Homo sapiens: one gene and its partners. The protein of the gene in region 2 interacts with the protein of the main gene of each other region in a pairwise test. Each region holds a gene or a part of one and is shown on either strand. Other genes may lie near its edges. The genes, in order: SCML2, SFMBT2 and LYPLA1.

What was found.
Region 1: the proteins of SFMBT2 (region 2) and SCML2 interact in binary tests that used the Homo sapiens proteins (3 or more experiments, as listed by UniProt).
Region 3: the proteins of SFMBT2 (region 2) and LYPLA1 interact in binary tests that used the Homo sapiens proteins (3 or more experiments, as listed by UniProt).

What each region holds. Positions count from the first base shown.
Region 1 is NC_000023.11:18,351,585-18,358,575, reverse strand, and holds the start of SCML2 (sex comb on midleg-like protein 2), read left to right. Parts: upstream 1-3,887; 5' UTR 3,888-3,984; intron 3,985-4,299; exon of another isoform or gene 4,300-4,326; intron 4,327-6,991. UniProt on the Homo sapiens protein: Putative Polycomb group (PcG) protein. PcG proteins act by forming multiprotein complexes, which are required to maintain the transcriptionally repressive state of homeotic genes throughout development.
Region 2 is NC_000010.11:7,407,931-7,415,651, reverse strand, and holds the start of SFMBT2 (scm-like with four MBT domains protein 2), read left to right. Parts: upstream 1-4,617; 5' UTR 4,618-4,791; intron 4,792-6,310; exon of another isoform or gene 6,311-6,350; intron 6,351-6,770; exon of another isoform or gene 6,771-6,790; intron 6,791-6,881; exon of another isoform or gene 6,882-6,919; intron 6,920-7,721.
Region 3 is NC_000008.11:54,098,877-54,105,815, reverse strand, and holds the start of LYPLA1 (acyl-protein thioesterase 1), read left to right. Parts: upstream 1-3,868; 5' UTR 3,869-3,992; coding exon 3,993-4,061; exon of another isoform or gene 4,062-4,466; intron 4,467-4,876; coding exon 4,877-4,908; intron 4,909-6,939. Other genes in the region: LYPLA1-TCEA1 readthrough, read left to right, coding at 3,993-4,061, 4,877-4,908. UniProt on the Homo sapiens protein: Acts as an acyl-protein thioesterase. Hydrolyzes fatty acids from S-acylated cysteine residues in proteins such as trimeric G alpha proteins or HRAS.

The DNA of each region.
Region 1 (6,991 bases), on a different chromosome or scaffold from region 2:
ATATGTGCTCTTGGTTTAATGGGGAAAAAAGGGCAAATTGTTAGAAACAGGGATCTGAAGATATTTGTAAAGTCACTATTTTAAACAATCAGTTATTTAATACCCATTCTATGGATTTTTACACTAAGGTAAAAATATGAATAGTGGGTTTACTAGTTACAACTTGGAGCTCCAGTCTCTGCCAGGCTTAGTTAGGCTTCTGTGTTTTAGGGAGAAAGATGCCCATTTAGTAGGAAAACTAGAGGGAGTCTTCACTCATCCTAAAACGTTAACTTTATGTATGCAAATTACATTGTTTCTTTTTTTTTTTTTTCCGAGACGAAGTTTCGTTCTTGTTGCCCAGGCTGGAGTGCAGTGGCACGATCGCGGCTCACTGCAGCCTCCACCTCCCGGGTTCAAGCGATTCTCCTGCCTCAGACTCTCAAGTAGCTAGGATTACAGGCGCCCGCCACGCCACCTGGCTAATTTTTGTATTTTTAGTAGAGACTGGGTTTCGCCATGTTGGCCAGGCTGGTCTCAAACTCCTGACCTCAGGTGATCCACCTGCCTCGGCCTCCCAAAGTGGAGGGATTACAGGTGTGAGCCACCGCGCCTGGCCGATATTGTTTCAACATAAGCATGTGTACTGATGAAGATCTAGATTAAACTTGCTTATCTAGGGAAGATTATCTTTTCACTCTCACTAATATTGAACTCTAAAAAAGGTACAAAAGGAAGCAATAAAACACACTTGAAATACAGGAGTATTTTGCCCTGGACTTGGACTGGGTGGGGTGATGTGTTTTTTTGAAGGTTGTCACAGGTTTGGTGCCAAATCAGGAGAACTATAAGAGCAAATTCACAGGAGCAAATCTGAGGCTTGAAAAATAAATCATGAAAACTTGGATTTTACCAGCTTTAGTTCTTATTCTTTCAGTTCACAGTTTCTTTATTTTCATGTTTTCTAGGCAAAGTTAATCGAACATAATAACAGTAGGTATTCATTTATCCATTTATCTATTCACTCATTCAACAAATATTTACCAAATTCCTACTATGGGCAAGAGACTTACATATAATGTAAGAGAAACGGTGATGTTCCAACCTGTGTTAACATTATGAAAAAACTGTCTCAAATTTATTTTGGCAAAGGTGGAAAAGCAGGGTATAATAAAATAATTATTGAAAAGTTTATATACGTAGTGGATAAAAGCACAATTGATGACAAGGGTGGAAGGAATTATTAGGACATATTTGAATATATTAATATATTCAAAAGCTAACTGCCACTTATTTGCTGTGTATTAATTTATTTTCCTCATCTGTAAAATGGGAATGAGAGTACCTACCTCATAGGAAAGTTGTGAAAGAACATTGCAAATATTGGAAATTTATCTCTAAAGAGACTAGCGTGATTCTCAGCACATGCTCAATAAATGGTAGCTATTGTTATTATCGATAACTCAGATTTAATATAACGAAGAGTCACACATCTATAAATCCTTTGGTGAGGATAGTAACTGAGAAGATGTTCTAGGATAGATAATTCAAATTTCATTTTTAGAATAAGGGCTTCAGTAATTTCATGTTAACAGAAATATGAAAAATAGATTAGGCATCAGTGAGCCAGGCAATTCAGCAATCATAGTAGAATTCCTACAATTTAATAGAATCCATAGACGTAAAAAAGGTATGTGACAAGCCAAAGTAAATCTTTCTTTTTTTTTTGAGATGGAGTCCCAAATAAATCTTTCATACATAGAATGTAGAGATGAATTTCAAATATTTCCATTGCATTGGGATTAGAAGGACAGTGGCCACTAATTAAGAATTTATGTCCTCCTCAGCCCTGCTGGTGCCCATAATAAGGTTTGTTTAGATTAAACCTCTGTTTAATTTCTTTCTGTTAAAGATCTCCTTCTGGCTTTTTTTTTTTTTTTTTTTTTTTGAGACAGAATTTCGCTCTTGTTGCCCAGGCTGGAGTGCAATGGCGCGATCTCGGCTCACGGCAACCTCTGCTTCCCAGGTTCAAGCGATTCTCCTGCCTCAGCCTCCCGAATAGCTGGGATTACAGGCGCGTGCCACCACGCCCGGCTAATATTTTGTACTTTTAGTAGAGACAGGGTTTCTCCATGTTGGTCAGGCTGGTCTCCAACTCCCGACCTCAGGTGATCCACTCGCCTCGGCCTCCCAAAGTGCTGGGATTACAGGCGTGAGCCACCGCGTCCGGCCTCTTTCTGGCTTTTGAAAACATGTTTGGGCCGGGCGTAGTGGCTCACGCGTGTAATCCCAGCACTTTGGGAGGCAGAGGCGGGTGGATCATGAGGTCGGGAGATCGAGACCATCCTGGCTAACACGATGAAACCCCGTCTCTACTAAAAATACAAAAAATTAGCCGGGCCTAGTGGCACGCGACTGTAGTCCCAGCTACTCAGGAGGCTGAGGCAGGAGAATCGCTTGAACCCGGGAGGCGGAGGTTGCAGTGAGCCGAGATCGTGCCACTGCTCTCCAGCCTGGGCGACAAAACGAGACTCTTGTCTCAAAAAACATGCTTGAACCTTCATCTTAGGACACTCCAACATTTTCTCCTATGTGATATACATTATAGAATTGATAGGACCAAATCTCACTTTAATATTTGCATATCATCAACCTAGTCTTTCTATTTTCGCCTTAAAGTTTACTTGAATTTGGCATTAACATTTAGGTTTTCATTTTTAAAGCATTAAATAATAGATCCATTTGATTCTGTGCCACTTGCCAATGTTTAGATATAATAAACACTTTGACTTTTGCTTAATACTGCAGAAGCTGCAACTGGAAAATTCTATCCTGCGTTGTAGACAATGGATATATTCCACAGGAGTTTTTTGTTCTCAGTTTTAAGCTCTGATTTCCAAATCATGATTTAAAAAGTATATCATGCCCTCTGCACTAAGTTAGGTGATCACAGATGCAAAACCTACATCCAGCTTTGGAAAGAGTTCCAGAGAGAGAAGCCCTAGCAATGGTTTGTTTTTGGCTAACATAGCACATTGTATTATTTTTCAAACAAAAGTTTGAAATCAGCTTATACCTAACCTGAGAACGAGGGACAGATGTTTTTCTCCGGCGTTCTGTTTGCTGTAATTTGTGCTGAGAGATTCACTGGTCGTTTTAAAGCTGTTTTTACGCCCCCTCCTTTGTGCGACCTCCACTTGCGCTATGGGCCTTGCCCGGTGGGAAAGGGAGCGTGCAGAAGGGACCCCAAAACGCACTCTCGGGGATGCTCCTGAGTCAGTAAGCAAGTGATTTCCCCCTGCGGGTTCATCTAGTTCCCGTTAGCTCAACCCCGGGTTTAGAGGAAGAACGAAATCCAGAGAGTGAAGCTGGGAGGTGAATGCGTGGCAAAAACTCATGGAAAAAAAAAAAAAAAGCAGTTTCAAGGACTATGCTGCAACCCGCCAAGCAGTGGCTTTCCTCAAGCTGCTGTAACCAGCTGCTTCTCCCTGCTCCTCGAACTTGCTTGAGTTCCGAGGGAAGCGCCTGCTTTTTGGGTGCGTGGCCAGGGTGGGTGGTGGCCAGGATTCGAAGGCGACAGTGAAGGGGAGCGAGTTCCCGGGATGGAACTTGACGTGGAACCCGGGGTCCCATCGAGGGGCTCCCCACGGCCTCGGGTGCTTGGGCTGCGACTGGTTTTTCATTTGGCGTAGGCGTGGGGGGTAGGAGGCAAAGTGCCAAGGGCTTTCCCGGGCTCACAGTGTCTCATGGTCCGCCACTGCCTGCGGTGGCGCTCGGCTTGACCCCGGCTCGGGCCCCGCACGCGGCGGCGGTCAAAGGGCGTGCTCGCGGCAACCGCAGGGCACGCGGGCCGGCCGCGCGGGGGGCGGGGCGGCAGTGGCGGTTGCGGGGCATGCGCGGCTCCGCGCGCGGCTTCTCAAACATGGCGGCGGCGGTGTGAAGCTCGGTGCCGGCTCGCGCGATCGGTGGGACAGAATTTCGTTGTTTTCACCGACGAGACTGGAGGTACGTGGTGATTCCGGGCCCCGTAAGGAATGGAGAGGCGGAGGTGTGTCCCGGACCCCGACCGTTGTCCGTGGGCGGGCGGGTAGAAGCCATCAGCGCGCGTCCCGTGCGAGGAACGCCCCCTTACGATCCCGCCTATGTCCCATCTCAGTTCGGCTTCGCGATAGGGTATCCCGCCCCCGGCGCCTTCCGCGGACGCCCTTCAGCCGATCTCGCGTTTCCCCTCACGCCGCCCCGGGGCCTTTTCGCCGCCGCGGGGTTTGGGCGCCCGGCCGATAGCTTCCACCCGTCCCCTCGCCTGCAGCGCCGACAGCGCCCTCCGGCGCATCCTCCCTGCCGTGGGTAGGGCCGGGCTGGGGCCTGGGGGGCATCACGGTGGGTGGCGGGGCGGAGGAAGGAGGTAGACTTTGCCTGGTCTGGGCTGAGATAACTTTTGGAGTTTGGGAGGGAAACGTCGGCCCGGAAGGATGCGCCTGTGGCGGCGTGCGGGCGCAAATCCTGGTGCCAAGGTGCGCGCCGCCGGGCTCCTGGCGGGGGCTGGGGGCGCCGGTGGCTCACCCTAGCGGTGCAGCGGGACCGGAATGCGCGTCCCGTCCGGGGCTGGCGGGGAGGCGAGGAGGGGCTCTAAGCCTCCTGAGGGGCGGAGAGGCGGCCTCGCGGCCTGACCGAAAAAAAGTTGCTGCCGTCACTTAGAAACAGTCTCGAAATGGTTTCTTACCTTTCTCGCTTTTTCCACCTGTATCGTGCTTGCGCCCCATCCAGGTGTGAAGAGCCGGAGGGAGAATGGGTCTAGGCGAATTTGCTCGATTTTGCGCCTCAAGGTTGTACATAGATAGCTTCCTGGGCCGACTTGTAATTCGGCTCCCCCAAACCCCAAATGTTTGGGCAGCACAAGTATTTACTTACAGGCTCCCATTTGAGACTATTTATTTTTTAAAAAGAGGTTGTTAAACATTTGTCAAGCATCACAAAGTGTGATTGCAACTTGAAATTTGCTTCTTGTTTGTAAATTAGGAGATTAACGTTTATGACTTACTTTAGGTCTTCTCTGGAAAGTTAATGGATCGATTAGTGGGGGTAAACTGAGGCAGGGAAAGTGAATAAGTTGCTTATGATCATATGATTTACAAAAGTATTGGAGATAGTTGTTTTTTTCCCTAAAACAGCTTCAGATGCTGCTACATTTTAATGCCCCCAGAGCTATTCATATTTCTGTTTTGAGGGAAAAGTATTTTAAGATGTACAACATTTATGGAGTACAGCTGCCTATGATGAGCAATTGTTTTATAACAATGGTTCATAAACGCATATTTAATTCTTTTCAATAACAGCGAGGGAAATGTTTTTCAATAATGACGATTTTGCCTTTCTTTTATTTTTCTTAATTACTCATTAAATAAAATATTTCCAATTACGAATGTGCTTTCAGGCTGTTTGTGTGTTTTTTTTTTTTTTTTCTATTTAATGGGAGGAATGTGAAAATAAGCTTTTGGAAATGAATCCAGTGGGATTTTTGAGAAAAGATTGAGTTTATGAGTATTCACCTGATGCCTTGTGTTTAGCTTTATCTATAACCTTTAAAACAGTTTGATAGAATGTAAAGAAAAAACACCATTTAAACTGGCTTTGAAAGTTTTGAATGAACTTTATATATACATCATGCAGCCATATGAACTTCTTAAGGATGTATACTTGTTTACCCCAGAGAACCTGATTTGCTTTGGAATTGGTAGTTGGAAAAAAGATTACTGTAACTCTACTGCATTATATGTGCGGGTGCTTTAAAGTTGATAGTGTCATAACGTTCAAAAATCATTACAGTCAGTCTAAAAAAGGTGTATCAGTTTTTCTCATGAGGTGGTTGATCAGTCCTTTTGATTTATGATTCCATCAACACATCTTTATTAAGCACCTGTGCTGTCTTTACTATGGAGTTCAGTTTATTCAGAGCCCACTACGTGTGCTAATTTCAGGGTGTTTAAGGCTTTCCACCCATAGTTTATTCCTGAAAATTTCAGGGAGTTATAGCTAAAAAAATCAATACGAATGTAGAACAAGTATTCCTTTCATTCAAAGGGCGAACTCGAGAAGTCAGTATTTTTGTCATAATTCTCCAAACAAAATTCTGAGTGTAGCTGCAAACTATTTCTGACTTACGTGATGTTAACTTTGTGATTTTTTGGTTAGGATTATATAAAGCTATATATTTTCATGAGATTATTTTCTGGTTCAAATAGATAACATACTGGTTAAGCTTGAGGGGAAAAATGAGTTGCTGGTATAAATGGAAATCAATATGTGCTCTGAAGATTGGGTATTTTTTAATACTAAGCAATTTCTATTACTAAGTAGTTTAAGCTGTAATTAAGTTTTAACTGGTATTTTAAAGCACTTTGTTTTTTCAAAATGTTGCAGAAATCTCTGAGCTCAGAAATAACAAATAAGGGTTATGATCCTCAGCTATAAGCCAGATGTGACTCTTATTTTCTTTTGGGCTTGTTCCTTTTTAGCTGCCTGCCTGTTCCTCCCAGATGCTTCCTATCACCCCTCTTCCTGCCCCTGTTCCCTTTGCTGTTGGTGTCTGTTTCCGCATCAGTGAAATGGTCAGGGTAATCCTTTGCTGCTTCACTGAGAAATAATTAATGATGGTAAAGTGCCTTGAAAAGGCTGAGTAAATACCAAGTCTTTTGAATTAACTTGATGTAGCCACTTGTTCCATTTAAGGAAGAGCCAAATCCCAATTTTAGTTTGAGCTCTTGGGGGTGCGAGAGAAAAGTTTCACTTGACTATTTTACTGCCTTTCTTTTGGGGTTAATAGCAATGACTTTTGTAACTCTAGTAACTGGAACACGGGTGGATACAGCAGTATCCTCTGCTGTTTGCCTTATTAGTCACCTCTAGTCTTTTTTTTTTTTTTGCCTGGTTATTCTGTCTGCCATTTTTCTCCCTCTATTCTCATTCCACTTGTGAATGGAAATCGGAGGTCCTCTCTATTAGCTACCCTCTC
Region 2 (7,721 bases):
TGTTCCCTGGGCTGGTCTCGAACTCCTGAACTCAGGCAATCCACCTGCCTTGGCCTCCCAAAGTGCTAAGATTACAGGTATGAGCCATCACGCCCGGCCTTCATGTACTTTTAAAAATATGCCCTGTACCCTATTATTTTTTTCTCTTGTTGTCAAGGAAGCTTGAAATTCCTTCAAATTATACAAGAGTCAATCGCAATAGTGTGTTTCTGAAATTTCTATAAATGTATGAGAAGGTGCTCTCTTAGGTGGTGATATTTTTTGAACCAATACACATCACTACACTCACTGAGAACTCTAGTTATTTTCACAAGCCATCTCAATAACCCCAGGCTTTTCTCAGAAGGACTGTCATAGATACACTCACCAGAGCCCCCACACTTTTATGGGCAACACAAAACTCATACAGTAAATGCAAAAACACAATAATAATCAAAAGAAGGCAAAAATATGACCTGAATGGTACCTTCACTGAAGGGCAGTGAGGCAAAGAAGGCCCTAATACCCTTTCCCTACAAATTCCTTTACTTAATTCTTTTTTATCTTCTGTGACCTCAGAATTTGATTGCTATATCAAATTGGCAGAATACCATATAAAGCAATTTATGGCTTTGAGGTGGGGTAGATTGCTTAGCACTGTTTAGGTCTGAAAGGACCTCACAGAACACCTAGTCCAATCCCCTCATTTTACCCAAGAGGAAAGAACGGCTCAGAGAGGTCACTGGACTTACAGAGGTCACACAGATAATTAGCGATGAAGCAGTGACTGAGGTCACTGGACTCCCAATACATTAACCATTAAGTGCTTTAATTGGGGATAGAAGATAAGGAAAAAAGGTGAAAAAATAAAAGACAGAGTGTATTTAGATTTACTCTTTGTGACCTTAGGATCCTGATGGAAAAATACTATCTTATGTAGCCTAAGAAAAAACAAGTTTTGGTTTCAAGGCTCCAGTAAAGAGAAGGTTGTACAAATTCTTCAAATATTTGGTTCTGGCCTCTTTTTCTCCTCCTTCTGCTTTCCTGTTAGGCTAGTATGTCTAATGGTTCATTAGGGAGTCTCTATATTAAGAAAGCATAATGGTTTATCTTCTATTTTCTTTGGTTCATTTCCTTTTCCCAGTGGGAAGTGATAACTTAAACATGGACTAGGTATGTACAAATTGAACATTTTTCTTGGGTACGACTAATGCAACAAGATTTAAGTAATCACATGTCCTAAATATAAAGAGAATAAATAGTACACATATAATTTTTCAACTCCTCTGCAATAGTTTTTGTGATGTAATGCTTAGGAATATAAGGAAAATGAGACAAAAACTTTTCAATTGTTATTTTATATTTCTAATTTGTGCTGTATCATTAGACAAATGGAATAGCATCTAAATATTTTACAATTAACCAATTAGCCCCATTTATGTTAAAGAATTCCAAAGTCCCTGTGAAGGGATAACTTGATCTGTAGAGTGATGAAATTCATGGCTTAAGCAAAGTTTAGGAGTGAAATAATATCTATAGTTAGTGTGATCAAAGGCTTATTTTGGCCAAGATTTTTAGTAAATATTAACAGTATAGAGAAAAATCTTGTGTTGATAATGAGATTTTCATGACCCTGTTTGAGCTGGAGTGCATAAGCCTTCTTTACTTTAAAAAAGCAGTCACAATTTTTGTCAGTGCGTTATCCTTTGCTGACTATGTGGAATTTTTTCCTACCTTTAATTGATTTAGGGTGCAACCTACATCTGGGTATATATCCCTAAAGTGTCTGGTTCTGAAATAAAAATGAAAGTGGAAAGGTATTGAAGTGGGATGAAGGGGCCACTTGAATTGCCTCAGGGAATCTCCTAACCAATTTTCATTTGCCTCATTGGTGCCCTTGGATAAAAGAGAATGGAGGTCGGTTGCAGAAAAGAAAATCAAGGAATCTTCAAAAAGTCACGTGCAAAAAGCAACACAAAAATAGGAGGGAAGGAGTTTTTTTTTACAATAACAATGCCACCTTTGTGTGCTGCGACTTCCTGATTATATTTCTTAATCACGATAGGTAACCCTCCCCCAAAATCACCATTTTGTGGACCCAGGAGCAAAATTATACGGGGTCTACGTACCCAAAACATTAAAAAAATTCAACTCCTTCGGAGTAACCAGGTAAGATAATGAACGCAGTCATACACTGTTTGGGATCAGGTGTTCTTCTGCATTTGCTTTTATTTGGATGAAAGAATGTTTCGTGCACAATGATGACCTAAAACTGGTAAACAAGCCTGGAGAGAGCGCGGTGGCTGGTTGCAGCTCACGTCTCCACGACTCCTGCAGAAGGAAATTACGTTCTCCCCTTCCCCCCCGCACCCCTACCCCTACCCCAAGCCCCCGGGAAGCCCTGCGCTGGCACCAGGGCAAGCGCCTGTCGGCTCCCGGGAGCTAAGCGAGGCCGCGCGGTCTGGGACGCAAATGGGAGGGAGCAGCCGCTGTCGCCCTGCGGGGCCAGGGCCACTGGGTAGGCGCAGCGCGGGCCAAGAGTGGGAGGCTCAGGGCAGGGGATCCGCACTCGGGGCCATTCCTGCCGCGGCGCGCCCTGCGCTTCAGCAGTGCACAGGGTGGGGACCCCTCGAGGACAGTGGTGCGCCGACGGGTCTCTCGGCCCCTCCCTTTCCACAGGCCCCGCTGTGTGGTGAAGGAGCCAGAAGAGGCGACTTGGGTGTTGAGACCCGGGGCCAAACCGTGGAGAGTGTCTGGAGCCCACACTCCAGATTTCTGGACGCCGCAGTCAGTCCAGCAGGTTCTACCTGGAGCCGCCTCGGGGCTCAACCGGGAGGCAGCGGGGTGCAGGCGAGAGGGTTAATGCGCCCGGTTCGGTTGGTTTGAGGAGTCTCTGCTTTCAGCGACCCACAGGGCAGAGAGCCCAGGGCTCCGGCTTGATGTCCCCAACAGCTGGGGACTGGAGAGCTGGAGGGGTCGCAGACTCAGGCTAGAGTTTAAAGTGCGCCGCGCGGCGAGTCGCTGGACTCTTCTGGGTCTCACGTGGCTCCTGTGTCACATGGAGTGACAGGCCGGCGGAAGGCGCTTTAGTCGTCGCCCAGCGTTCTCCAAGGTGTAAGGAGGCAGGATCTTCCCATACTGGCGGCGCAGGGGGCCTCACGGCTGCGGACGCCCGCCCTGGATCTCTCAGCTCGGCAGATCCTTTGGGTGGAGAGGCGCTCTCCAGGGTCGCGGCGAAGGAGAGCGGCTTCTCGGCACGTCCCTCCGTATTTCTTCTAGATCAGCTCCGGCCCCACCGTCCAGGAGAGGGCCCGCCTGAGGACCTCTGTCTGTGCCGCGCGTGGTCAGCCCCGGTCCCCTCACTCCATGGCTGGCCCCTAGCCCTTCAGAGCGGACACCTCTCCTTAGGGATGCAGGGCGAGGAAGGGCGGGTGGAGCTGCGAACCCACGGGGACCTGGAGGACCTCTTGGCCCCCTGGAGAGGGGTACTATGAGAGGGATTCATGGGACACAGATTTGGGGGACTGGGTAATTTTACCCCCTTTGGCAACCATAAAAACCCTGAGCAAACGTGTCCATTCGCTATTTCGCAGAAATATACAATGCAGGCCCACACAGGCATCTCTGCGAGGCCCCCTAGTTAAGGGCGCAGCGTTCTTCGGAAGCTCTTGGTCTTGCTACCAGGGCGTCACCGGCTTTTCCGCACTGGGGACATTTCGTTTGGGCTCTGCGCAGCCGTTGCACCTAAGGCCCTGGGAGCTCCGCGTTCCTCCCCAGGCGCCCGGGACAAAGTGCCCGAGGGCTCCGCAGACGTCCAGCCCTGCCCGGGGCTCACGGCCGCCGGGGCTCTCCAACGGACCGTCGAGGGCCACGTTTTGCTGGGGTGTGAGCGACGATTCTTTTCCCGCCCTATGAGGCCCGCCACTAGCTAGGTGCCCCATGAGACGCCGTGGCGAGCACGGCTACCTGGCAGCTCGCCCGGGCAGCCCCAACTTAATTTCCTGCCCCTCGGGGCACCTTTCCCTCGAATAGCTCTCCTCGGCCCCTCCAGCCCTGCCCAAGGGGCCTGGAAATGTTCGCAGCTTCAAGAAAGGCTCTATTTAAGCACAGGATGGGGTGGGGCGGGCGGGGCCAAGATTGCCCTGGGGATTGAATTTATCTCCGCTCCCAGCGATCCCCGGCGGATAAAGCGCAAGTTTGTGCACACGGTCGACTGAGCCATTGGAAACCCAGCTCACGAACCGCAGCCAGGGAAACGGGAGTTTGCCCAGTTGTCCTTGCGGAGGGGTGTGCGGAAACGCCCGCGATGGGAACTTTCTGCAGATCATGTATGGAGGGAGCTCACAAAAAGGAGGAAGGGGAGCGCGGTGGGGAGGAGGCCGCGTGGGCGTGGAAGGTCCCAGGGTCCTGGGGGTGCCCGCCTGCTTAGGCGCAGGGAATGGCGCGGAGCTGGCTGGGGAAGGAGCCGATCACGTCCCGCAGGCTAATTGGCTTAAGAAATTTTGCAAGCGCTGGAAAAGGTCGTTGAAGGAGTTCGCTGCACGCGCACGCACACACATACACACACACACAAAATCTTAAAAAAAAAAAAAAAAAAAAAAAAAAAAGAGCGCCGAGCATGCGCACAGAGAGGATGCCATATTGGAATGAGCTGTAGTGGGAGCCGGAGGACCGGAGCGGGCGCGCGAGGGAGGCGGCGGGCGGGGAGCGAGCGGGCAAGGGCGGGCGAGCGAGCAAGCGAGCGAGGCCGGTGCCCTCCCGGGCGGCGACCGGGGCCTGGGTCCACGCCGAGGGCAGGACGAACTTCACCAGGTAGGACGCCGCGCCGGCTGCTGTCCCCGGCGCCCAGGCTGGCCGGAGAGCAGCCCTTCGGCCCGCAGGTTGAGTGCGCTGGTCAGGGGCTTTTTCCAGCCTAGGAAAAAAAAGGAAAAAAAAAAAAAGGAAGGAAGCCTGAGGGAGCTGGGGTTGGAGGTGGCGGGTGGGGGAAGGCTGGGGAGGGTGCAGGGGAGCGAAAGAGAAGGGCAGGAGAAGAAAGCGACTGCACTTGAGCGAAGCTTCAAACTCCTCTGTGCGCTCCAGGTTGTCATTTTTGCTTCCCGGGTCCCCTTCGCCTGCGTCTCCGGGCTCGGAAAAGCCGAGCCGTGCGGGAGTCCGTCCGGAGTTGCAAAGTGTCCTCCTTCCCCGGGCGCAGCCTGTCCCCTCCCGCCGCCCACCTTCCTCGTTTCTGCACTCATTTTAGCGACGCAGCCGCCGCTGCTACCTACCCCGCGCTCCCGCGTCTCCTCCGCGCTGGGGTCTCCCCTTTCTTTTGGTTTGGGTGGGAGAAAAAGATGGTGAGGACGGGGAATCGGAGACCGGCATGGGGGTAAAAATCGTGCAGACATTCGGAATCGCTCCCTTGGAAACATTTGCCTGAGCAACTGAAATAAAATTGGCAGTAGTAGTTTTGGAGCGTGCTCCAGCGAGGATGGTCTTTTTGTTCATTATTTTCTCTTTAAAGTAATATCCTGTCACTTAGGGGCTTTCCGGTTGTCTCCTCTTATTCGACCCCCTTTCAAAATTGCTGACTTGAGCTGGTTCTGGAGTTTATTTTTTAATATGCGTGCGTGGGTATGTGTATGTGTGTGTATGTTTTGCAGAAATCCGCCAAAATGCAACTGTAGGAACTGCGAGATGTATTTATTGATTTTGACCAGGGGCGGTGGGAAGGGGCTGGAGGGAGCTGGGGGATCCTGGAGGGTGGGAAGTGGCTGATTCTCGGTGGCCGGACACTCATCCAGAGCCTGATCCGTACTCGTGTTTTCTTGGAAGCGCCACAACTGCGGGGAAGGAGTCTTTAGAAACCGTGCCAGTTTCAATATGGCGGGCTAAGGTGGCTTTTAAAAACTGAAAATAAAGGTTTTGAGGTGGGAAAAAACCCAGCTGAAGTTTCCACCCCTTAGTTTCGACTCTCTTTGGCTACCCCAGGAAGCGCTTTAGCGAATTAAGTGGGGAAAAAAAGAAGGAATGGGCTGTCCGGTTTTTTTTTTCCGTGGTTAGAGTCTGTGTGTCAAGTCCATTGCTAGGGGGGAAAGGGATGGAGAAGTGCCCCTGGCCCGGACCAGGGCACCGAAACGCAACTGTCGTGTGTGCCTGTGGATTAGTGTGCAGGCCTGCGTGTGCGCAGTTTTTTTGGGTGTGTGTGTCAAAGAGAACCACCCCGAATGTGTGTGTGCGTCTTGGAACCAGACCCTGCCATGATTTGACGTGACAAACTGCGGACACGTGGTGTAAAGTACATGAGGGCAGAGGGAGTGATTTATTTTGTCTTTCTAGGAGACGAGCTAGCTCTCGCCTTGTGTGTGCTGGATCCTGCGCGGGTAGATCCCCGAGTAGGTGGGGCGAGGAGGTGCTTATTAAAAGGACTAACTGTCCCGGGTATTGGGTGCAATCGGGCTGCAGACGCCAGCCGGATTTCGTGTGTGCAGGGGGCGCGCTGCACTTAATAGTGGGCTCCTGCTTTCCTCCACGCCGCTCTGGGGTGGGAGGTGGGGGACCGGGACCGAAGCTTGGAGAAGACCAAAGTGGTGGTGGTGGTGGTGGGGTGGGGCAGAAGGGCGGGAGCGCGCGGCTCTGGGAGACAAGCACGTAGGGTCGAGGCGAGGGGTTGCCTTCCTTACTTTTGGGTTTCGCGCTCTAGGGAAGGTGGGGGATGGGGACAGCGTTTGGGGAAGAAATTGTCCCTTGCTCGGCTTAGGAACCCTCTCGGCGCATCGGAGAGGGGCATCTTCTTGTCTTGGCGGGCATGGAGGCCGGGCAGTCGCCGGGGGATGTGAGTGGGCGGCGAAGTGCGGGGGAAAGGTCGGCGTTCCAGGGCGGGGAGGATCTGGGAGTGGAGTTCGGAGACAAAATCGGGGTCAGGCAGAGGAGCCAGAGGGAAAGCCAGCAAACGCGAGCTCGGGTGAGAGCCACCGGAATGCGGGAACGCAGCTTAGCCGGGAACAGGGTTCCCGACAGGGGTCGCCCGTGGCCAGGACGCGGCCGCTGAACAGAGGTCGCGCGGCGGTTCCTGCCCGAGGGACCTCGTGGGCGGGGGCCACACGGAGGCCGCGCACGGTCCCCGGGGCTGGCGGGGGCAGGTGGGAGGACCTCCTCCGGGCCCGCGAACCTGATCTGGCAGCGGCCAGGTGCCTGGAAGCGTTTTTAAATGATAGGGTTACAAAGACATGTTGGCCAGGTTTGTAGTTAGCGCAGCAACGTGGTTTGCAGGAGCGCAGAACGAGGCTAGACAGGGTCACTCGGACGCCGTGCTGTCAGTGGGTGGGGGCCGGGAGCAAGCGGCACTGGCTTGGAGACCCCGCGGCAGGTGACCCCTCCCACCTGGGCAGCGAGGCTGAACGATGGCGACACGCCGGCCAGGACGCGTCCGTGGCTCCTCCAGCCTGCGTTTGGGCGCGCCCTCCCGGGGCCGGCTTTCCCATGGGCCCCGCGAGGTGGGGAGCAGCCTAAAATGGCTCTGTGCTGCGAAGCTGCAGTTTCAGCCGCGAACCCCTCCCCTTGTCCTCCTGACGTCGCCGCTGACAAGCGCAATTTGCTCCAAGGCCCCGAAACCCGCGATTTTGCACGAGGCCGTGCCGTGGAAGCGGATGTACAGTTGATTACAAAGAACATTCCACAGGGTTCTCGAAGGGCCCAAGTTTTTCCTTCTGGTGGGGAGGAGGGAGGAGCCGAGACTGGGCAGGAGCCCGGCCGACCACCGCTCT
Region 3 (6,939 bases), on a different chromosome or scaffold from region 2:
CTCAAATCCTTCAGAACGCTGATATTACAGGAAAGGGGTCCCAATCCAGACCCCAAGAGAGGGTTCTTGGATCTCACGCAAGAGAGAATTCAGGGCAAGTCCATACAGTAAAGTGAAAGCAAGTTTATTAAGAAAGTAAAGAAATAAAAGAATGGCTACTCCATAGCTGGTTGCCCATTTTTATGGTTATTTCTTGATGTTATGCTAAACAAGGGGTGGATTATTCATGCCTCCCCTCTTTAGACCATATAGGGTAACTTCCTGACATTGCCACAGCACTCGTAAACTGTCATGGCGTTGATGGTGTGTCCAGCATTGGTGGGTTCTTGGTCTCACCGACTTCAAGAATGAAGCTGCGGACCCTCGCGGTGAGTGTTACAGTTCTTAAAGATGGTATGTCTGGAGTTTATTCTTTCTGGTGGGTTCCTGGTCTCACTGGCTTCAGGAGTGAAGCTGCAGACCTTCGCAGTGAGTGTTATAGCTCTTAAAGGCACTGCGGACCCAAAGAGTGAGCAGCAGCAAGATTTATTGCAAAGAGCAAAAGAACAAAGCTTCCACAGTGTGTAACGGGACCCGAGTGGGTTGCCACTGCTGGCTCAGGCAGCCTGCTTTTATTCCCTTATCTGGCCCCATCCACATCCTGCTGATTGGTCCATTTTACAGAGAGCTGACTGGTCCATTTTGACAGGGTGCTGACTGGTGCATTTACAATCCCTGAGCTAGACACAAAAGTTCTCCAAGTCCCCACTAGATTAGCTAGACACAGAGCGCTGATTGGTGCATTTACAAACCTTGAGCTAGACACAGGGTGCTGATTGGTGTGTTTAACAAACCTTGAGCTAGACACAGAGTGCTGATTGGTGTTATTTACAATCCCTTAGCTAGACATAAATATTCTCCACGTCCCCACCAGATTAGCTAGATACAGAGTGCTGATTGGTGCATTTACAAACCTTGAGCTAGACACAGAGTGCTGATTGGTGTATTTACAATCCTTTAGCTAGACATAAAGGTTCTTCAAGTCCCCACCAGATTAGCTAGATACAGAGCGCTGATTGGTGCATTTACAAACCTTGAGCTAGACACAGGGTGCTGATTGGTGTGTGTACAATCCTCTAGCTAGACATAAAAGTTCTTCAAGTCCCCACTAGACTCAGGAGCCCAGCTGGCTTCACCTAGTGGATCCTGCACTGGGGCCGCAGGCAGAGCTACTTGCCAGTCCCACGCCGTGGGCCTGCACTCCTCAGCCCTTGGGCGGTCGATGGGACCAGGTGCCGCGGAGCAAAGGGAGGTGCTGGTCAGGGAGGCTTGGGCCACGCAGGAGCCCACGGCGGGGGCGGGGGAGGCTCAGGTATGGCGGGCTGCAGGTCCTGAGCCCTGCCCCGCGGGGAGGCGGCTGAGGCCCGGGGAGAATTCCAGCGCAGTGAGGGCGGGCCCACAGTGCCGGGGGACCTGGTGCCCCCTCCGCAGCTGCTGGCCCAGGTGCTAAGCCCGCCGAGCCCACGCCCACCCGGAACTTGCTCTGGCCCCGGTTCCCACGGACACCTCTCCCTCCACACCTTTCTGCAAGCAGAGGGAGCTGGCTCTGGCCTGCGCCAGCACAGAGTGGCTCCCACAGTGCAGCGGCGGGCCGAAGGGCTCCTCAAGTGTGGCCAGAGCAGACACCGAGGCCGAGGAGGTGCTGAGAATGAGCGAGGACTGCTAGCGCGTTGTTATCTCTCAATGAGAGTGCAGTAGTGAGGATGACCAGAGTTCACTCTCATTGCCATCTTAGTTTTGGTGGGTTTTGGCCGGCTTCTTTACTGCATCCTGTTTTATCAGCAAGATCTTTATAAGCTATATTTTGCGCTGACGTTCTATCTCATCCTGTGACTTAGAATGCCTTAACCGTCTGGGAATGCAGCCCAATAGGTTTCAGCCTTACTTTACTCAGCCCCTATTTAAGATGGAGTTGCTCTGGTTCACACGCCTCTGACACTGGTTACCGTGTGAAAGAAATGGAGTGTTGTTTTTTTTACAGCTTTCTTCCGAACCTTACTCTCTAAGGATGGTATCCAGTATGTCCTTTTTTTTTTCAGATGGAGTCCTGCTCTGTTGCCCAGGCTGGAGTGCAGTGGTACTATCTTGGCTCACTGCAAGCTCCGCCTCCTGGGTTCATGCCATTCTCCTGCCTTAGCCTCCCGAGTAGCTGGGACTACAGGCAACCACCACCACACCCAGCTAATTTTTTTTTTTTTTTGTATTGTTAGTAGAGACGGGTTTTCACCGTGTGAGCCAGGATGGTCTCAATCTCCTGACCTCGTGATCCGCCCACCTCGGCCTCCCAAAGTGCTGGGATTACAGGTTTGAGCCACTGCGCCCGGCCTCCAGTATGTCCTTCACTGAATTGTAAACTTCTGAAGGTCAGGGCATTTTGGCTTTAAGTGTTTCTATCTTGTGCTCTCTTCCAGATCTTACCATGTAGTTGATATGCAACACATTTGTTGAGTAACTACATTTTAGGCCATAAAGGCACCTGTGCAGAAAAGGGCAGTCTAGTCTCATGCTTATGTGTCCAGAGTTGGTTCCTTCCGGTGGGTTCATGGTCTCGCTGACTTCAAGAATAAAGCTTGTCACCTTCGTGGTGAGTGTTACAGTTTTTTTTTTTTTTTTTTTTTTTTTTTGAGACAAGGTCTCTCTCTGTCTCCCAGGCTGGAGTGCAGTGACGCGATCTCAGGTCACTACAAGCTCTGCCTCTCAGGTTCACGCCATTCCCCTGCCTCAGCCTCCCAAGTAGCTTGGACTACACGACCGGCCAATTTTTTTTTTTTGTATTTTTAGTAGAGACGAGGTCTCACCGTGTTAAGGCAGGATGGTCTCGATCACCTGACCTCCTGATCCACCCGCCTCGGCCTCCCAAAGTGCTGGGAGTGTTACAGCTCTTAAAGGTCCCACAGACCCAAAGAGTGAGCAGCAGCAGCAAGATTTATTGTGAAGAGTGAAAGAACAAACTTTCCACAGTGTGGAAGGGGACCCAGGGCTGCCACTGCCAGCTAGGGGATGGGGGGCGTGGCCAGCTTTTATTTCCTTATTTGTCCCGGCCCAAGTCCTGCGGATTGGTCCACTTTACAGAACACTGATTAGCCCGTTTTACAGGGTACTGATTGGTGCATTTTACAAACCTCTAGCTAGCCACAAAGTGCTGATTGGTGCATTTTACAATCCTAGCTACAGAGTGCTGTTGGTACATTTTACAATCCTCTTGTAAGACAGAAAAGTTCTCCAAGTCCCCAACCGACCCAGAAGACCAGCTGGCTTTACCTCTCACTTAAACCTGTACTGTGTCAATATCCGTACATCAGTAAGTGTTGTCGATCAAGTTAGGGAAGTAGTGGATTTCTGGTGACAAATGTTACCCTTTCCAACTAAAGTTTAAAGAAGGTAAGTTGAACCCAAATCTACATACTGCTGTAGCCCCAAACGGAAATACTGCAAAAGCTCCATCAACGTCTCCCAGTCCATCCAGACTTTTACAAATGGATAGACCCCGGCCGCAGGAAACCAAGGAGCACCTGGGGTTGGGTTGGGTGAATTGGCTCTGGGGCTCATTCTTTTCACTACAGCGCCAGAAAAGCAAAAACCTAAACCAAGACCCAAGAGACCAGCCCTCAGCCTGCACCTGAGAGCACATTTTCCCTAGCCAGCACTGAGCATGCGCAGGCTGCGTGGTGTGGCGAAAGCGCAGCCAGGTCCGCGCTGCCGCCGCAGCCAATCGGAGGGAGGGAGCCGCCCGGACATTGTGAGGTGCCGAGGGAGGGGCGGCGGGCGAGGGGCAGGGCAGGGCGGACCCTGGACGCGCGGGCGCGCGCGGAAGGTAGCGCGGGGCCGCGTTGGCGCGCACGCGCCTGAGCGTGCGCCCGGTGGGGCCGGCCGGGACTCGCCGCTCGCACGCCCTTGGGCCGCGGCCGGGCGCCCGCTCTTCCTTCCGCTTGCGCTGTGAGCTGAGGCGGTGTATGTGCGGCAATAACATGTCAACCCCGCTGCCCGCCATCGTGCCCGCCGCCCGGAAGGCCACCGCTGCGGTGAGTGGCGTAGGCGTGGGCTCGGAGGGGTCCACTGGGCCGGCCACCGGTGGTTGCCCCTCGCGCGGGGTGGGCGTTGCGGGCGCGTGGCGGCCTGCGGACGAGGACGCTCCTCCCGGCCCGGGTGGGGTGCGAATGGTCCGCGCGGCCGGGTCCGCGGGGGGCGGGGGCAGCCGGGGGGTCACAGCCGGCGCGAGGGCCAGTCCCCAGCTCCTCCCTGCATTGCGGAGGAAGTGTGGCCCCGGGACCCCCGCGGGCCGGCCTAGGGCACGGCGTCAGCCTCTGCAGCGTGTTTCTGCCTGGTGTGTGGGTGAGGGAAACCTAAGTCCGCCAGGAAATCGCCTTATTGTCACCTCGCACTCTTATCCTCAATGAAAGAAGTTTGAAGATTGAGTGTCCTACAAGGTCAGACGTACTGTTTTTTAGAAAACTCGTGTATGAAAAGTCAAACTTATTTTTGCCTCCGGAAGCTTGCTTTTGCAGTGGAAAAATTCTACAGGATATGTGAGATGTTCCTGATTTCACTTGAAAGAGATAAACTGTTTTTCTTAGAATGTGATCATTTGCACTCAATGTCTAACTGGGACCTCTCAGTGCTACCCCCCCCCCATTCATTATCTCAGGAAATAAAGGGAGAAGTTGATCAGAATTTTTGCCATTTAAAAGAGGTCGATAAAGATTAAGTCGCCGAAGATAGTGTTGTGTAATTCTCTCGTAGGTTTCGTTCCGTTTTCCACCTTAAGCAAAGCTAGTGTGTAACAATCCTGTGTGGGCTTATTTAGGCATTGCTTATTAATTTTCCTCTTCTCTTATAGGTGATTTTCCTGCATGGATTGGGAGATACTGGGTAGGTACCATTATTATTAATAGTAACAGTAATGAAACTGGGTCATGCAACTTTTGTTTACGCGTTCAAAGGTTTAATGTTTAAGGGCGCTAAAATGGTATTTTAAGATTGCCAGTTAATGTATCTTACAGTGCGGTGATTTTATGTTTTGAAAACCCTCAGAATTTTCCCCTTATCATCGTGAGTTTATTGATTTTTTAACTCTGGTTTCTGGAACATATTAAAATTTCAAATTCCTCATTAGTTGCTTTGGGTATTGGATACCAGAGATCCGTGGAATGTTAGTAGGGACGGTGTGCAATTGAGAGCTTTCCAGAGCAGTTAAAATTTCAGAGCAGATTGAAGAGAAGAACTAGTTGATTTTGATAAGAGAACTAGTGGCAACATAAGGCATGCAGCATTCTGAATAGAGGGATTAGATGTTCACTCTAATGAGTTGAAAGGCAGGGGAGGCAACTCAAAGATTTATTTGGAGGCTTATCAAACAATTTGTTGTACTAACTACTTATTTTTATTTTATTTTTTGTTTGTTTGCTTTTTTCTTTTGTTATTATTTTTAGAGACAAGGGCTCTCTCTGTCGCCCAGGCTGGAGTGCAGTTGCAGGATCTTAGCTCACTGCAGCTTTGAACTCCTGGGCTCAAGTGATCCTTCAGCCTCAGCCTCTCAAAGCACAGAGATTAGAGGTGGGAGCTGCCTGAGCCTGGCCTTTTGTACTAACTTTAGATACATGATTTATCTTTTACTCAAGCTTTTTCTATATTGAGATGTTTTTGTTTTTATATTTAAATTGGTGATAATCTGTGAAACTTAAGCAAAATATGAATGTTGTTGAAAAATTGCAGAAATAGAGGAAAACTGAAGATAAATAAATTTTGATAAAGTAGCCCCAGAACGACTAAATTTTCTTTAAAATGAACCATTGGGGCCGGGCGCGGTGGCTCACACCTGTAATCCCAGCACTTTGGGAGGCCGAGGTGGGTAGTTCACTTGATGTCAAGAGTTCGACACCAGCTTGGCCAATATGGTGAAACCCCATCTCTACTAAAAATATAAAAATTACCCGGGTGTGGTGGTGCATGCCTGTAATCCCAGCTGCTAGGGAGGCTGAGAGAAGAGAATCACTTGAACCTGGGAGGCAGAGGCTTCAGTGAGCCAAGATTGCACGACTGCACTCCAGCCTGGGCCACAGAGTGAGACTCAAAAAAAAAAAAAATGCCATTAGGCTAGATTTTTGTTTGTTTGTTTGGAGACAGGGTCTGCTGTGTTGCCCTGGCTGGAGGGCAGTGGCGTGATCTTGACTCACTGCAACCTCCACCTTCTGGGTTCCTGGGTCTCCCGAGTAGCTGGGACTACAGTTGCTTGCCACCATGCCAGCTAATTTTTGTATTTTTAGTAGAGACAGAGTTTTGCCATGTTGGTTACGCTGGTCTCGAACTCCTGACCTCAAATGATCCACCCACCTGAGCCTCCCAAAGTGCTGGGATTACAGGCGTGAGCCACCACTTAAAAGTGATTCCTATTTTTTGCCTAATAAGTCGAGTTATGTAATACAAACTTTGTATGGAGTTACAGAAAAGGTTGCAGCACTCTTTCTGGCAATCCAGTGGTCCTGTGAAAATGATGAACTTATTTTACCAAATGAAACTCGAATAGCAGAATCTCTATTTTATGGCCAAACCTTTCTTGATGTTGCAAGTCAGGGAGAAGGTTGCTATCCTCTAACTTTGCCAATAATGAGCACTTCTATGCCTGAATGATTAGTTCAAGCAAAAAAAAAAAAACTTCAGTCTAGGCAGATTCCACAGACTGAAGCTAAAAGTAAAAATGGTGAAGACTATTAGGATCAAAAATACCAAGAACATCCATTACATCTTGACCAAAAGTTAAGTTTATATTAAAAAAGTATCCTTCTTTTTAACCTGTTGTGATAAAAGAAAAAACAAAGGTCTCCAGTTCTGAAATTATTTGGTGGGATAATGCTAAGGAAAGGCTGACTCTAGATTGGTTCCATGAGTGCATGATGAAACTTC